Homo sapiens: one gene and its partners. The protein of the gene in region 1 interacts with the protein of each later gene in a biochemical or structural test. Each region holds a gene or a part of one and is shown in the gene's direction. Other genes may lie near its edges.

Evidence for each region. Proteins that work in one complex are often made in the same cells at the same time.
Region 2: of the proteins of CUL4B (region 1) and ST7, one has a biochemical effect on the other in vitro, tested with the Homo sapiens proteins (one study listed by BioGRID).
Region 3: the proteins of CUL4B (region 1) and DCUN1D4 form a complex in vitro, tested with the Homo sapiens proteins (one study listed by BioGRID).
Region 4: the proteins of CUL4B (region 1) and OXSR1 interact in a test that uses a peptide from one of them, tested with the Homo sapiens proteins (one study listed by BioGRID).

Annotation. Positions count from the first base shown.
Region 1 is NC_000023.11:120,525,860-120,531,074, reverse strand, and holds part of CUL4B (cullin-4B), read left to right. Parts: intron 1-820; coding exon 821-973; intron 974-4,218; coding exon 4,219-4,314; 3' UTR 4,315-5,215.
Region 2 is NC_000007.14:116,960,001-116,964,097, forward strand, and holds part of ST7 (suppressor of tumorigenicity 7 protein), read left to right. Parts: intron 1-4,097. UniProt on the Homo sapiens protein: May act as a tumor suppressor.
Region 3 is NC_000004.12:51,860,153-51,864,249, forward strand, and holds part of DCUN1D4 (DCN1-like protein 4), read left to right. Parts: exon of another isoform or gene 1-480; coding exon of another isoform or gene 481-511; intron 512-1,557; exon of another isoform or gene 1,558-1,581; intron 1,582-3,284; coding exon 3,285-3,355; intron 3,356-3,517; coding exon 3,518-3,557; intron 3,558-4,097. UniProt on the Homo sapiens protein: Contributes to the neddylation of all cullins by transferring NEDD8 from N-terminally acetylated NEDD8-conjugating E2s enzyme to different cullin C-terminal domain-RBX complexes which are necessary for the activation of cullin-RING E3 ubiquitin ligases (CRLs).
Region 4 is NC_000003.12:38,224,537-38,228,633, forward strand, and holds part of OXSR1 (serine/threonine-protein kinase OSR1), read left to right. Parts: intron 1-34; coding exon 35-168; intron 169-4,097. UniProt on the Homo sapiens protein: Effector serine/threonine-protein kinase component of the WNK-SPAK/OSR1 kinase cascade, which is involved in various processes, such as ion transport, response to hypertonic stress and blood pressure.

The DNA of each region.
Region 1 (5,215 bases):
TGGAATTATAGGTGTGAGCCACTGAGCCCGACTGAAAAAATTTTAATGTAGGACAGCGACCAGTATCTCCAAACAAGTTCCTGTCATTTTCACATACACATCAAAGACAGGATATTTTCTTAAAGGATTACCATGTCCTTACTTTTAAAACATTTATGCTGTACCAGGAAGAAACTGCTGCAAAAAGGCCAAACTGTTTTTTTGGTTTAATTACTAAAGATGAACATTTTTACTTTAGCATCAAGATTGGTAAACCGCCTCCTAAATACCTACATTTCTGTAAGTCTTGAAGGATTGTAAGCACTAATGGCATGCATGTCTGATTTATATATTACAAAATAAAAATTAATTTTCAAAGAGGTTGACTCTTAACTAGTTTGCTTAGCCAGTTAATACCATGCCTTGAGTCAGAGATCAGACAGAGTCACCTTATAGACAAGCTATTGTCATAGAGAAATCTGGTTAACAATCCATTGAAACTGATACACACATTTAGAAGATATATCAAAGACAGAGTAAAAAAACAAAATGGTAAATTCCACATCAGCTATCTCTACTTCTAGAAAAGCAATTCAAAGATGATGTTTTTCTATTAACTAATATTAGCATTACTTCATTGGTATAGGGCAATATAATCAGAACAGAAAGGAGTTATGTTTGTAGGATTTTTCTCTGTCAGCATCTATATTTATAAGACCCCATTTAGATAATTCAGTACCTTTAAAGCAATAACAATGTCATGTCCCTAAAATGCACAATTTATGTAAATAGTCAGGTTTTGCTTCTGGTATAATTCCTAGGTTTAAAACTTTTTTGTTAGGTTGAAGAACAAGCAAGCACTACAGAAAGAGTATTTCAAGACAGACAGTATCAAATTGATGCTGCAATTGTTCGAATTATGAAGATGAGAAAGACACTTAGCCACAATCTCCTTGTTTCAGAAGTGTACAACCAGTTGAAATTTCCAGTAAAGGTAGGTACTTCTGTGTTTTCCTATTGAGCGTGTTATAAATAAAAGAAAGTACATTAGATTTTCAGACACAAATCTTGCAAACATAAAGCGTCATGACCATTTAGAGAGAGAAAAGTTTTAATTTCCCATGTTGATGCATATGATTTCCAAAAAAAAAAACTTTGTTGGCATATGTGGGCAGCAGTGACAAAAGGGAAAAATAACAGAAAAGCCTGGATACCTGAAAGTTTAACTGCTAAATGAGTGTTTGAAATTTTCAAGTTTATTCACTATATTTCTTTTGAACTTCTTGGTTGGTTATTTACTTCTTTTCCTCTTGAAATACCATGGTATTTATTGAAATACCATGGTATTTGACAGATTTAGTTATTGTGGATTGAGTTAAATCTCCTGTTTAGTTAGCTTATATAAGAGATCATCTGTTAAAAACCATACAGATAACTAGTCATGATTAAGCATCTTTTTGAAAAGTGTAGTGATAGTTCTGGTAAACTGAAATTGGTCATTAAATGGAAACGTTCCATTGTGAATGACCAATAATAAAGTCACTTAATGTGATGTTGTACTGGCCTTTTTTCCAAGTTTTAGGAGGTAGATAGCCAAACCCTTGGATGATAAACATTGATAGAGTTTGAATAGACTGCTAGCTATTAGGGTTCTTATGAGCTTTGGACTTTCATAAATCACTTCACCATGCTGATCTTGTTTCCTCTTTTGTAAAACTGAGATAATAATAGTACTTACCTTGTAGGATTATTGTGAGGTTTAAGTGAGATCATGAATGTAAAAATCTTAGCACTGGACCTGGTACATAATAAGCACTCGGTAGCTCTTAGTTCTAATAAGGTAAGCATTTTCTTTTCTCCAAACCTAATATCGCACTCCTCATTACCACCCTCTCACCCTCATGCTCTGCTTAATAGTCATTTCACCTCAAGCCAGAGAGATCACTGATGCTGGGGAAATTAGGGGATCGCTGTAGTTAATATTGTGCTGATATTCTAGGTCTTTCACCATAATTAAGAGAAGTCATCTGATTTCCCAACCTTGGGATTACTGGATAAAATTTTCACTGCTGTATCAGACTACTTCCCCTCTTTTCCCCTCTTGAACAAGTGGTCATTTTACTTATCCTGAAAAACTTTCTATTAGCAAACAAGATTATATTATATTTACAGACTAGATACATAAGATATATAGTGGAATTTTGTCATCCAGGAGCTTAGAATGCAATCATGAAGATAAAGCTACAAGCTTTCTTGATTACTTTTAAATCACAGGATGCAGAAATCCAAGTCACTTAGATGCACTAAACCAGAAATATGAAGATCTAAATTATGAGGTACTTCATTTATCAAGCCATTTCATGTAGTTTTTTTTTGAGATGGAGTCTCGCTCTGTCATCCAGGCTGGAGTGCAGTGGCATGATCTTGGCTCACTGCAGCGTCTGCCTCCCGGGTTCAAGCAATTCTTTTGCCTCAGCCTCTCGAGTAGCTGGGACCACAGGTGCGCACAATCACGCCTGGCTAATTTTTGTGTTTTTAGTAGAGACGGGGTTTTACCATATTGGTCAGGCTGGTCTCGAACTCCTGACCTCATGATCTGCCCACAGCCTCCCAAAGTGCTGGGATTACAGGCATGAGCCACTGCACCTGTCCAGTATTCTTTTAAATAGTGATTTTTTTTTTTTTTGAGATGGAGTCTTCTTGCTCTGTCACCCAGGTTGGAGTGCAGTGGCGCGATCACGTTTCACTACAACCTCCACCTCCCGGGTTCAAGCAATTCTCCTGCCTCAGTCTCCCTGGTAGCTGAGACTACAGGCGCCCACCACCACACCTGGCTAATTCTTGTATTTTTAGTACAGATGGGGTTTTGCCATGTTAGCCAGTCTGGTCTCAAACTTCTGACCTCAGGTGATCCACCCATCTTAGCCTCCCAAAGTGCTGGGATTACAGGCATGAGCCACCACACCCGGTCTAAATAGTGATTTCATCAGTACGTTTTAAATCTTAATTTATAAAAATGAAGCCAACTAACTCTTGCCCAAAGTAAAGGTGTGCTTCATGAACTATCTTGACAAAACTAGTATTCTGTGTCCTTAAACTACCTTACAGTGCTCATGTGAAGTTACAATAAATGTAGTCTTTTGTATTTAACCACGCGAAGGGTAGCTGCTTCTGGCATGACCTCTTTAAAATAGAAAAGTAATAGAAAGTATTCCGTAACAATATGACAAGGATGTGACAGTTTAATGTATGTATAGTATATAGTACAGGTTGAACACCTTTAATGAGAATCCAAAATCTGAAATGCTCTAAAATTGGAAACTTTGAATGCCAACATGATGCCACAGGTGGAAAATTCCACACTTTACCTCATTTGACAGGTTGCAGTCAAAACTTTGTTTCATGCACAAAAGGTATAAAATTATCTTCAGGCTATGTAAGGTATGTATGAAACATAGATGAATTTTGTGTTTAGACTTGGGTCCCATCTCCATGGTATCTCACTATGTATATGCAAATATACCAAAATGAAAAAGTCAGGACCAGGCATGGTAGCTCACACCTGTGAGTACTGGGATTCCAGTACTTTGGGAGGCTGAGGCTGGGGGGATTACTCCAGAACAAGAGTTTAAGGTCAGCCTGGGCGACATAGCAAGACCCTGTCTATTAAAAAAATTAAAAGCTCCAAAAAAAAATCAAAAATCAAAAACACTTTTGGCGTTAAAGAATCTTCAACATACCTGGGCACGGTGGCTCATCCCTGTAATCCCAGCACTTTGGGAGGCTGAGGCAGGTGGATCACCTGAGGTCAGGAGTTCAAGACCAGCCTGGCCAATATGGTGACACCCCATCTCTACCAAAAATACAAAAATTAGCCAGGCGTGGTGGCTTGTGTCTAGTCCCAGCTACTCGGGAAGCTGAGGCAGAAGAATCACTTGAACCCAGGAGGTGGAGGTTGCAGTGAGCCAAAGTGGTGCCACTGCAGTCCAGCCTGGGTGACAGAGCGAGACTCCGTCTCAAAAAAAAAAAAAAAGAATCTTCAACGTGTATAAAACATTTTTTAACCTGGTTTATTTTCATGATACTTTTCTCTAAAAAAGAGATTTAAATAAATAAAAATTTTAAAAAAGGAGATTAAATTCATGAGCCGAAACTGTTGTCTTTTTAATGGGGTATTAACTAAATGGGCTTGAGCCAATGATAATGAACTTTACATTGAAAATTTGCCTTCTCTTACAGCCTGCTGATCTTAAGAAGAGAATAGAATCTTTAATTGACCGGGACTACATGGAAAGAGATAAAGAAAATCCAAACCAGTACAACTATATTGCATAGAATGTTGGCCTTGCAGCATTTGGTGTCATATGCAGTAGCCAGTGGATAAACTAACCTGTTGATTCAATATTATTTGACTCCTTTTTTACTACCGATGACCAAATGAAGCAGTGTAATTAATGGAAATAGTTGAGTGGACTTTTTCTCAGTGGTTAACATGCCCATTTTAAAGAGTAATACTTACCTTTAAGAAGAATGTTGTTGAACTCTTTGCATGTTATTTAGTATGATGTGCAGAAAACACTTAAGAACGTACCTGGTCTTCATGAATTCCTCTTTGGAACTGGGAAAGAGATCCCTGTGGCTATTAAAAAGGGGGGAGGGTTCTTACACACCATTAATTATGAAGCAAAAGGTTTATTTGCTTAAAATGTCATTTAAAGATACTTAAACTGCATGCAAACTTTATTTACTGTACAGAGTTCTGGATGTATTTATCAAATAGAAAAACCACCCTTGACTTGGTTGTTCACCCGTTTTGTGATTTCCCTTGAAAAGAGAAATGAATTGTCATAGCTATTGATATTTTACTAGGTGATGTTCTGTTACACTGAAAGGGATGTTTTTTAAAAAAAATTATTTGGAAACAAGTTTTCAAGTAGGGGGACAGTTGCTTACATAATATCTTGTATATTCACATCCTAAAAATTTTCATTTATGAGTATGGGATGTGTGTATATGGCTTAGCCCCAAGTTAACTGTGCTGATTAACAAGTACTTATAAAAATAGCTAAAGTAGAAAATTAATGATCAGTTGTACTAGAGGAACATCATAGAAGAGAAAAATCCAACTCTTTATATTAAAAATGAATACAATAAGAAAATTGCAAAAGAGACCAAAATGAACGTGTTTTGTAAATTGTTACAGGAGCAAAAACTTTGCAACTAGTTTTCAACATAC
Region 2 (4,097 bases), on another chromosome or scaffold:
TGAATACAAGTCCAGATTTTGTATGACTTCCTGCAGTGGCTTCCATTGCATTGAAAATACAATCTAAGTGTATTACCTTCATTTACAAAGTTTGATGCTATGGCTCTTTCTTACCCCTCAAATCTGAACTTCCACCTCTCTTTTTCTAGATCACCACCCTCCAAATACGCTGGGATTCTTTTTTTTTTGTTTTGTTTTTTTGTTTTTAAGACAGAGTCTCGCTCTGTTGCCCAGGCTGGAGTGCAGGGACGGGATCTCAGCTGACTGCAACCTCTGCCTCCTGGGTTCAGGTGATTCTCATGCCTCACCCTCCCAAGTAGCTGGGATTACAGGTGCATGCCATCATGTCCGGCTAAGTTTTGTATTTTTAGTAGAGACAGAGTTCGCCATCTTGTCCAGACTGGTCTCAAACTTCAGGCCTCTAGTGATCTGTCCCCCTCGGCCTCCCAGAGTGCTGGAATTCTAGGCGTGAGCCACTGCAGACACATAAAATTGTGCTGAAGTATTTCTAATCACTTCGAGTTACAATTCTGTTAAGTTTCATTTTGCCTGCCAATATTATTCTGAAAAATTTCCCAACCAAATCTTTCTTGTACTACTGTGTCATTGCTCACAGACAATTTTTTTCCACATTGGTAGAACCCTGAACTCCATTCATACAGATAATATGAGGTACTTAACTTGTACATTTGTTTAAGTTCCTTATTGATGCTGGATATTAGATCTTTGTCAGATGCAAAGTTTCCAAAAATTGTCTCCATTCTGTAGGTTTTCTGTTGACTCTGTTGATAGTTTCTGTTGCTGTGCAGAGGCTCTTTAGTTTAGATTTTATTTGTCAATTTTTGCTTTTATTGTAGTTGCTTTTGGTGTCTTCATCATGAAATCTTTGCCCATTCCTGTGTCCTGAATGGTATTATGTAGGTTGTGTTGCAGGGTTTTTATAGTTTTTGGTTTTACATTTAAGTCTCTAATCCATCTTCAGTTGTATATGGTGTAAAGAAGGGGTCCACTTTCAATCTTTTGCATATGGCTAGCCAGATATCCCAGCACCATTTATTGAATAGGCAATCCTTCTCCCATTGCTTGTTTTGTCAGATTTGTCGAAGATCAGATAGTTGTAGGTGTGCAGCATTATTTCTGGGTTCTCTGTTCTGTTCCATTGGTCTATGTGTCTGTTTTTGTACCAGTATCATGCTGTTTTGGTTACTGTAGCCCTGTAGTGTAGTTTGAAGATGAGTAGCGAGTAGCATGATGCCTCCAGCTTTGTTCTTTTGCTTAGGATTGCTTTGGCTATTTGGGCTATTTTTTGGTTCCATATGAATTTTGAAACAGTTTTTTCTAATTCTGTGATGAATGTCAGTGGTAGTTTAATAGGAATATCATTGAAATTGTAAATTGCTTTGGGCAGTATGGGCATTTTAATGATATTGATTCTTCCTATCCGTGAGCATGGGATGTTTTTCCATTTGCTTGTGTCATCTCTGATCTCTTTGAGCAGTGTTTTATAGTTCTTCGTGTAGTGATCCTTCACCTCCATGGTTAGCTGTATTCCTACGTGTGTGTGTGTGTGTGTGTGTGTGTGTGTGTGTGTGTGGTGGGGGGCAATTGTGAATAGGTCTGCATTCCTGGTTTGGCTCTTGGCCTGACTGTTGTTGGTGTATAGGAATGTTAGTGATTTTTGCACATTGATTTTATATCCTGAGACTTTGCTAAAGTTGTTTATTAGCTTAAGGAGCTTTTGGGCTGAGACTATGGGGTTTTCTTTCTTTTTTTTTTTTAATTTTACTTTAAGTTCTGGGATACAAGTGCAGAATGTGTAGGTTTGTTATGTAGGTATACGTGTGCCATGGTGGTTTGCTGCACCTATCAACCCGTCATCTAGGTTTTAACCCCTGCATGCATTAGCTATTTCTTCTAATGTTCTCCCTCCCCTCACCCCCCCACCCCCTGACTGGCCCTGGTGTGTGGTGTTCCTCTCCCTGTGTCCATGTGTTCTCATTGTTCAACTCTGACTTATGAGTGAGAACATGCAGTGTTTGGTTTTCTGTTCCTGTGTTAGTTTGCTGAGGATGGTGGCTTACAGCTTCATCCATGTCCCTGCAAAGGAGATGATCTCATTCCTTTTTTATGACTGTATAGTATTCCATGGTGTACGTGTACCACATTTTCTTTATCCAGTCTATCATTGATGGGCATTTGGGTTGGTTCCATGTCTTTGCTATTGTACATGGTGCTGCAATAAACATATGTGTACATGTGTCTTTATAGTAGGATGACTTATATTCTTTGGGTATATACCTAGTAATGGGATTGCTTGGTTAAATGGTATTATTTCTAGTTCTAGATCCTTGAGGAATCGCCACACTGTCTTCCACAAAGGTTGAACTAATTTACATCCCACCAACAGTGTAAAGGCGTTCCTGTTTCTTCACAGCCTCACCAGCATCTATGGTTTCCTGACGTTTTAATAATCACCATTCTGACTGGTGTGAGATGGTATCTCATTGTGGTTTTGATTTGCATTTCTGTAATGATCAGTGATGGTGAGCTTTTTTCTATGTTTGTTGGCCACATAAATGTCTTCTTTTGAGAAGTGTCTGTTCATATCCTTTGCCTACTTTTTAATGGGGCTGTTTGATTTTTTCTTGTAAATTTGTTTAAGTTCCTTGTAGATTCTGGATATTAGACTTGGGCAGATGGGTAGATTGCAAACATTTTCTCCCATTCTGTAGGTTGCCTGTTCACTCTGATGATAGTTTCTTTTGCTGTGCAGAAGCTCTTTAATTATGTGACTCTGGGGTTTTCTAGATATAGGATCATGTCGTCTGCAAACAGGGGTAGTTGACTTTCTCTCTTCCTATTTGGATGTCTGGGCATTCTATGAATATTTGTGTGGTTGAGATAGTTACTGACTTTGGCCTTACAGCTTGATGATAGACTTGGTCCCTTGACTAGAATGCAATCTTCATATGAGACTGTAAAATGAATAAGTGCTTTGTAGGCTGTAAAATACTATTTAAATCTGAGGCATTATAGTAGGTCTTTTCCTCAGAAGGCTATATTCTATATTCTATAGGCTTGGCTCTCACAGTGAAATGACACATTAAACTATATAATAGAATCTTTTTTATCCTCGATATTCTTTCTAAAACTGCACCAAGCAAGATAATGGGTTATTGGATTGTTTGAAACCACACTACTGTCTGTTTGTTGTAAATGTGGAATAATATCTCTCAACATCATTATTGTATTTGAGATGTTGTTGTAAAGATATCTGTAAAGGGCTTTGGATTTTCCAGAAGAGAGAACTTGTAATGAAACTCATTTTTCTTGTTACAGTGGGGCAAGACAGTTGCTGATGTGTTACCATTACCCATCATTTAAAACTAGCAGGCATTCCTATACTACCTACTGTGCTAAAATAAGGAACTGACAGGCCCAGTTAGTTAGCTGTAGCAGTATTTTATGTTGCTGTGGCTGTGGTATCACTGTTTAATTGCAGTTACCAAATCTCTCAGCAAAGTAAGGCAACATTTATCTGAGAAAGCATTTTTTTCCATTCTGAATTAACTGAAAGTGCACTGGTTACACTTATACTCTGTGGAGAACCCTAACTTTGGTTCTTTTTTTTCTTTTTTTTTTTTTTTTGGAGACGGAGTCTCACTCTGTAGGAGTGCACTGGAGTTCAGTGGTGCCATCTCGGCTCACTGTAAACTCCGCCTCCTGGGTTCAAGCGATTCTTCTGCCTCAGCCTCCTGAGTAGCTGGGACTACAGGTGCATGCCACCATACCTGGCTAATTTTTGTATTTTTAGTAGAGACAGGGTTTCACCATATTGGCCAGGGTGGTCTCAAACTCCTGACTTCGTGATCCGCCCGCCTCGGCCTCCCAAAGTGCTGCGACTTTGGTTCTTAAGTTGACCTCCGCATCTAATAAAAGACTGTGGTTAAGTATCAGTCTTTCAGAAATTTTGAGCAAGGTTGTAGAGCGTTAAAGGACTTTAAAGGCATCTCTTAGGTCAGTGAGGAAGGACTATTTGTTTTATTATTTAAAAAAATTAACATTTAAAAACAGCACAAACAGAAACACTCTGAAGT
Region 3 (4,097 bases), on another chromosome or scaffold:
ATGTTGATGAGACGAAAGAAAAATTATCCATGTTACTGGTTTCATTTCTTCCTTTTTCTTTTTTCTTTTTTTAGTTGAAGTGATGATGATGTGGTAGCAATAGGGATTGGATATAGAAATGGATAATTGGTGACATATATTATGTATTTGTGAAATGAACCTGTTTACTCTTGTTGCCTTTAGTAAAGTAAAACTTCATACGTGGAACCTGATTTTAAACATAATATCTGTATTTTTGTTCCTGTGTGTTGTGATTATCTGCAGTCAACATTATGAACATCAGTTGCTGGTATATGAGTCGCAGTGCCATTCTTGCATTACTATAAAGAAATACCTGAGACTGGGTAATTTATAAAAGAAAAGAGGTTTAATTGACTCACGGTTCTGCAGGCTTTACAGGAAGTATGGTGCTGGCATCTGCTTGGCTTCTAGAGAGTCTTACAATCGTGGAGGAAGGTGAATGGAGAGCAGGCACACCACATGGCGAAAGCAGGAGCGAGAGAGAGAAAGGGTGAGAGGAGGTGCCACACACTTTTAAATGACTGAACCCCATAAGAACTCACTCACTGTCTCAAAGACAGCACTAAGCCATGAGGGATCCGCCCCCATGATCCAAACACCTCTCACCAGGCCCCACCTCTGGCACTGAGAATTACAGTTCAACATAAGACTTAGGTGGGGACATATCCAAACTATATCACCATCATAGGCTAAAAGATGTACCAGGCCACCTGCCTCAATTACAGAGGAAGCTCTGACCTTGGGATCATTGATGTAAGGCGAGAATTGAACCTAGGAAAAGTTAGAGACTATTTTAGACAGCTGTGTGGTATGGAGAATGGTGTAAGTAAATATAGTCGGAATTGATGTCTTTTATTGAGCACTTACTATCTTCCAGGTATTGTAATGGGTACCTGACATACCTAGACATTGTAATAGGTGTCTGATAAATATTTTCAACCATACAACAACATTATGAAGGAGAATTTTTTATCCTCACTTTACAGATGAGAAAATTGGTAGACCTGAGATTTGAACCAGCTGTTAGACTCCAGAGTCAGGTTGTGAAGCAAAGTGGATTTTTGACAGGAATAGAGTGGTTTTGTGTGTGTGTGCAAGTGTGTGCACACATTTGAATTCTCTTGGGTGTAGGAAGGGCAGTGGGCAGAATGTGGGGTTGGAAGGAAGGGTTTTGTGGAGTGGGGTGGTGAAAGATGTTTGGAGTATGAGTTGGGCCCAGCTCACCGAAGTCCTGGAATTCCAGATTGAGGATAACTTGTGTTTCTTGTCTTTTCTACTTCTTCCACATTTATATAAAGGAGGGAGAAAGATATAACAGTTTTGGTTTATTTAGATTCTCTTATGGGAATTTTGGGAGTTTAATTAACAGCAGGGTGGTGAAATGACAAAAGCATAGCCTGGAGAGTTAGAAGAGACCTCATTGCTGGAATGGCTTTTGGCAAGCCCCTTTTTCTCTCCCCTCCCTTACCCTCAGTGAAAAGAGAATCAAGAGGCTAAAGTTTTCTCAGTTTTTGCTTTTTGTTTTTTTGGGGGCCCAAGAGTTTAACTTCATATTTTAAGGTGATAATGGAATGTATCATTTGTCTTCCTATATTTAATCTGAGAGAGTACAAAAAGGGGGCTATGGCTTGGTAGTGGATGGGGTGGAGGTGCAAGAGTTGAATGTTCAAGCTCCTCAGCACCTCTTGCTGGTCCTGAGAGGCCTCTTGCTGGTGAGAGGGCTGTAGCTTCTAGCTTCTACCCCTGTTCACGTTTAATAAATATAAATGTAAATAAATAGGTGTATAATACACATACTTTTCTAAACCTCTGTGCAGTCGTATTTAGATGAAAAATCCAGATTCTCAGCCACTTTATGTCATCATTTACCTTAAGCATGGCTGGGCTATTCAGATGCTAAGCAATTCAAGCATGTCTATATTGGAGGGCCATTTAGAGCTTGAGGCCCTGCTCTGGCTGTCTCTCAGCACAAAATGCTGGTTTTGGGGACCATTCTATATGGCTATGACTGTGAACAGTGCATATGCACATGTATGTATACAGGTATGACCTGCTGTTCCTGACACTGCATGTGAATGTGAGGGGCTCTGCTTCTGCCAGCCCCTCTGCCCTGCAGACCTACTCAGAACTGGATGCCCAACAAGCTTTAGAAGAGAAAGTAAAGCTTTCTAACTGTGAACAGGGAGGCCAGCTTGTTTTCAGGGTTCAGAGTAGCAGCACAGAGGATCCAGCCCAAGCACAGACACCTGATATTGTAGCACCTGCTCTTTGGATCTGTTCTTTGGATCTGATACGTGTCCTAAATAAAATGTTTCAGTAAAGGGAGCTTTTTTTCTTTCTTTCTTTTTGTCAGAATGGTATAACTTGGAGAGTTACAATATCTTTTCATGGTCATTTTCATACTAACCTTTAATAGGAAAGAAGGAACTAATGTAAATCCTGATATTTTGTGAAAATACTTCCAGTGGTACTTATATATGAAATTATTAATAAACTTTCAGCTTACATTTTTATTGCCTAATATATATGCAAACATACTTTACTTCAAGTTGAGGCTGCGCGTAGTGGCCCACACCTTTAATCCCAACATTTTGGGAGGCTGAGGCAGGAGGATCACTTGAACCCAGGAGTTCAAGACCAGCCTGGGAAACATAGAAAGACCCTGTCTCTACAAGAAAAAAAAAAAGAAAAATTAGCTGTGCATGATGGTGCACACTAGTAGTCCCAGCTACCATGCAGGCTCAGGCAGATCACTTGAGCCTGGGAGTCTGAGGCTGCAGTGAACCATGATTGCACCACTGCACTTCAGCCTGGGCAACGTAGTGAGATCCTGTCTCAAAAAAAGGAAAAGAAAAAATAAATACTAATGTTGGGATGCTTTTCTATCATTTTCTTGCCATGAGCTTACTTAATTGTACCAGTAATTCTAGGGAAGAGAGGGGAAAGTGAACATTTCATTTGAGACTTATCTTTCTATTAAGTTCAAGTTCACTGCTGGCAGGATTTTATAACTACTGAAGTACTTTTTGTTTTACCTTAGAATTCACATGAAAATTTCATGAACTTTAACATTTGGTTGGGAATTTAACTTTATTGTCAGACTATTTCTAGGAGGTCACTAATTGCATGTTTTTAAAAAACTTTAGTGTCAAATTAATTGAGATAGTATTTAATTATATCAAAACATTTGTTTATTTTCTGAGTTTGTTTTTTTACAATATTGGAAATAAATGACGCTGACATTTTTCCTTTTTCTTTTCAAGATTTTCAGCTGAACTCTCATCTCTCAACACTGGCAAATATTCATAAGATCTACCACACCCTTAATAAGCTGGTAAGTCATTCTTTTAAAGACAAAATTACCAACTGTTTGAAGTAGTCATTTTGTATAAGTGTATTTGATAAAAATTTAGATTCTAGATATTAGGATATCAGTTGTTTATGAAAATGCTAACGGTATGTGATTTCTTCGTAATAACGAACATATTTCTTTCAGAACCTAACAGAAGACATTGGCCAAGACGATCACCAAACAGGTATCTGTAAATGCTAACACTACTTAATTTTAAATAGCTTCTTAATATTAGGAAAGAGAAATACTAGCTATGAATGCGCTATGTTGTCATAATGTACTCCATTAACAAATTGTTCCTTGGCTGAGGTTGTTTTTCAGGGAGTAATGAAGGCAGCCATGTTATAGCTTCTTCCCAGTAGGAAATCTCTTCTGGAAGCACTTTTTAATGCCTTTAAAGAGGCTCGGGATTCTCATAGTTTCAAGATACCTTGTTTTCTCTACTGCAGTATTTTCATTTATATTAAAAAGGTGCTACAGTAATGCAATTTGAAAGGTATTCCACAAATATTTGAGAAATTCAGCTGAAAAATGATTTAATATGGTGTGTGTGTATGTGTTCATAGTTACTGAAGATTTAGAAATCAGAAAATTGAAGCTTGATTAGTATAAGTTATCCTCTAACCCTGTGGTTCTCAGAGTTTAGCTGGCATTATGATCACCTGAGGGAAGGCCTTGTTTAAAGTACAGATGTTAGGTTCCACCCCAGAGTTTCTGGTTCTGT
Region 4 (4,097 bases), on another chromosome or scaffold:
TCACAAGTTTATAGTATATTGAAAATTCTTGCAGGTTTTAATGCTGACACTGCAGAACGATCCTCCTTCTTTGGAAACTGGTGTTCAAGATAAAGAAATGCTGAAAAAATATGGAAAATCATTTAGAAAAATGATTTCATTGTGCCTTCAAAAAGATCCAGAAAAAAGGTAAAATATGAGAAAAAGTCTACTTTTCTCTCTAATAAAACATTGTGAGAAGTCTAAGAATCACATACTCATATGTACAGGAAATTATTTTCAAAAGAACTAAATATAAACTTTAAAAAAGTATACAGAGACCATTATACTGGATTGGAAATGAATTGATTTCTGCCTTCTTTGTAGTATACAGTGTACCCTAAATAGTTCAGCTTTTTCCTTGTTAATTTCTTACAAAGTTGTACATTGTGAATTCTGTATTAATAAATGCCAAGTTAGTGGAGAGATTTGTTTTTAATTTGCATTTAAAATTTATAAATGAATGTCTTAATGCCATTTACAGTATTAATAAAGGAAAGACACATAGAAAATTTATATTTAGTGTAATAATCATACTTATTTCCATGTTAGAAAGATATTTTAGTAAGTGGACCAAAAATTCAAATAGCTTCCTTATCAATGTTAGACAGATTGAATGACAAGTGAGCAAATAAATAAGAACATCCGATATGTGTAACTTCATGAATTAAGCAGAATCGTAGAATGTTGGGGATCATTGAGTACAACCTTTTATTTTTGAGGTCACTTGATACTTAGTCATAGGAGTAGGACTTGAATCTCAAAGTCCTGATTCCTAACTTAGGGCTCTGTTCCTTCTGAATCTTATCTGTCTGTTTCACATATATATTCCACTCAGCTTCTTAGCACTGAGTTCTTTAATTTTTGTTTCTCTAAAGATCATTAAAAGGGAAAGACTTTGATGTTCTTGATCACATCTCTAGTGTATGTAATAGGGTTTCAGAATTTATTGTTGGAAATATTGGAAAGGGTAAGAAAAACAGGTAGCAAAATTTATACCTGTGTTTTTATAATTTTTTTTTTTCTGTTTCTGAGTAAACAGTTAAAAAAGACAGGAAACACTTTTCTTTTATCAAATTAGTTGGTTAAAGGAACAAAATTATCCTGTTACAAATACCTAGAAATGCCAGATAAAATCTATCCAACTTAAAGATTCTCAGATGCCAGAAATAATGAGGAAGCCCTAAGTTAAAGAAGAAATATTGTGAACTAATCCCATGGCTGTTTTCAGTGGGTCACTATTCATTCTGGTAACCTACTGATTTGGATTTATAACTCCCATGTGAAAACTGGAAGTGAGATCTTGGGTCCACCCAGTGGGGAGTTTGAACTGAGATTCTTCTTAAAGCTAAGAACTTCAGATGTCAGTATCCTTAGTAAAAGGATAGACAAGAATAAAAATTGTCATCACCAAGAGACAACAAAAACCTCTCCTGAATAATCAAGCCCTTCAACCTGGACATTCCACAGGTTTAGAGTCTATACTCCCTATGTTATCCAGGAACCCACAGGATTAGAAAGTTAAAAAAGCTTTACCAAATCAGTTTTTATTTTTGACGGAAGTAGTCACAGAGCTGCACTGGAAGAACACTTTCAAACTCTAGCTCCCATTGGATTCCTGAACATAATGCCCCACTGTAATAAGGTCACAATCCAAAATTAAGAAACACACAGTGAAACAATGCATTATGAACTAGTTAGCAGACACAAGCAGAAGGATTAGTGCTCCAGAAGATTTAGGTAATGCAGTGAAAATCTGAAAAGATACAAAATTAAGTATATTGAAAATAATTAAAATTAGAAGAAATCAGACCCACAAGAGAAGACTGTGACTATGACAGAAGAACCAAATAGCAATGCCAGAAATGAAAAATACAGTGATTAATGTTTAAAACTTTCCATGAGTGTGAGCTGGACTTGTTGACTCACTTCTGATGAGTAGAGTATGAAAAAGGAAAAATAGCAACTTTACAATGCACCTCCTCTACCCAATGACCAAGGTTAACATCACTATTAATAATACATTGATAAGACTGATATGTGCCTCTTGATATGGTGCAATGAGAAGGGCATATATATAACCTGTGAGGTATTCTTCCTCCAAATCCGTAACTTCGGTCTATAATGAGAAAACATCAGACAAACCCAAATCGAGGAATATGCAGCAAGATACCTGACCAGCACTCTTCAAAACTGTCAAGGAAGAGAGACTAAGAAACTGTCACAGATTGGAGGAAATTAAGAAGACGTGAAGACGGAAAGCAAGAGTATCCTATACTAGATCCTGGGACAGAAAAAGGACATTAGTGGAAAAACTGGAGAAATGGAATGAAGTCTGTAGTTTAGTTAATAGTATTGTACCAGTGTTGATATTTTAGTTGATTTCTTTATTATTATACTGTGGTTATGTAAAAGGTTCACAATAGCAGAAGGTGGTGAATGGCATGTAGGAACTCTGTACTAGCTTTGCAGCTCTTCTGTAAGTCTAAAATTATTATAAAACTTTAAGAAAACTGGAAGCTATAGAAAATCTATTCCAGTTTGTAAACCAAAATTAAACTTTGTTTAGAACATTGCTAAGTTAAAATAACACGCACAATGGACTGGTTAAACAGAACAACCAATAAAACAAAAAAGAGATTATTTACTCATCAAGTACCAGGCACTGTGGTAAACACTTAACATATATTGTTTAATTCTCACAGTAATCCTTTGAGGATAGCACTGTTATTTTCTTTATTTTACAAATGAAGAAACTGAATCACAGAGAGGTTAAGTAACCTTCTCCAAAGTCACACAGCTAATAAATGGTGGAATCAGAATTCTGACCCATGCAATTGGACTAGAGTTAACCTGTTTTAATCAGACTACACTATACTGAGGAAATTGCTCAGAATGTGGCACAGAAAGATCAAAGAGGGAATATGAAAGAAATATTAACATTTGGAGGGTAGACTGAGAAGGTTCAGTATGTTTGTGTGTATGCACATCCACACACACACACACACACACACACACACACACACACACACAAATGTACGTATACATATACATGAACTTACCAGGAAAGACTAGAGAGAGTATAGGAGAAGCGATATTCAAAGAAATAATGGCTGAGAATTTTCGAGAGTTGATGAAAGACCTATATTCTCAGAGTAAAGAACCATCCCCCCAGAATTCCAAGCAGTGTCCCCCTTCTTCCACTTGTACAAGTTGCTGTGAAACTACTGGACACGAAGCAAAGACAAACTCCTACAGGCAACCTCGGGGAACAGATTACCTACTGAGGATTAGCAGGTAGACTTGACAGCTACTTCCCCAATAACACAACAGTTGAGGCCAGCGTTTAGTGAAATGCTCAGAGAAAATGCAGTCATGTGTCACTTAAAATGATGAGGATACATTCTGTAATATGTGTATTAGGCAGTTTTGTCATTGTTTGAACATCGTGGAGTGTACTTACACAAACTTTGATGGTACAGCCTACTGCATGCCTAGGCTATTTAGTGTAGCCTGTTGCTCTGACTACTGTCAGATACACAGTATATTGTTGGCCAAAGCATTAAGAGGCTCATGACTGTGACTTTAACCCAGAGTTCTCCAGCTAGTCAGACTATCATTCAAGAATGAGCATGAAATTATTTTGCACACAGAAATTGAGTTTTCCAGTCACGTTCTGTCACTTAAAGAACCCATAAGTTGTACTTTAGAAAGAAGGAAATGAAGTCAGAAGAAAGGAATGAATAATAAGAAGCAATGTTGAGCAATCACATTGTTGAGCATATTGAGAAGCAATTGTTGAGCATATGAAAAAATAAGAGTGATAATGTAGGATTTCAGTTTGCATAGCACTTTCACATTTATTCAGCTTTTTAATCTTTATAATAATCATCTGAGGTGCTGGTTCTTAAACTTGAATGCCTATTGGAATTACCTGGGGAGTTTTAAACATTACTAAAGCCAATTAAAGATTCTGCTTTAATTGGTTTGAGGTACAGCCTGGTCATTGGTTTTGTTTGTTCGTTTGTTTGTTTTTGAGACAGTCTTGCTTTGTCGCCCAGGCTGGAGTACAGTGGCAC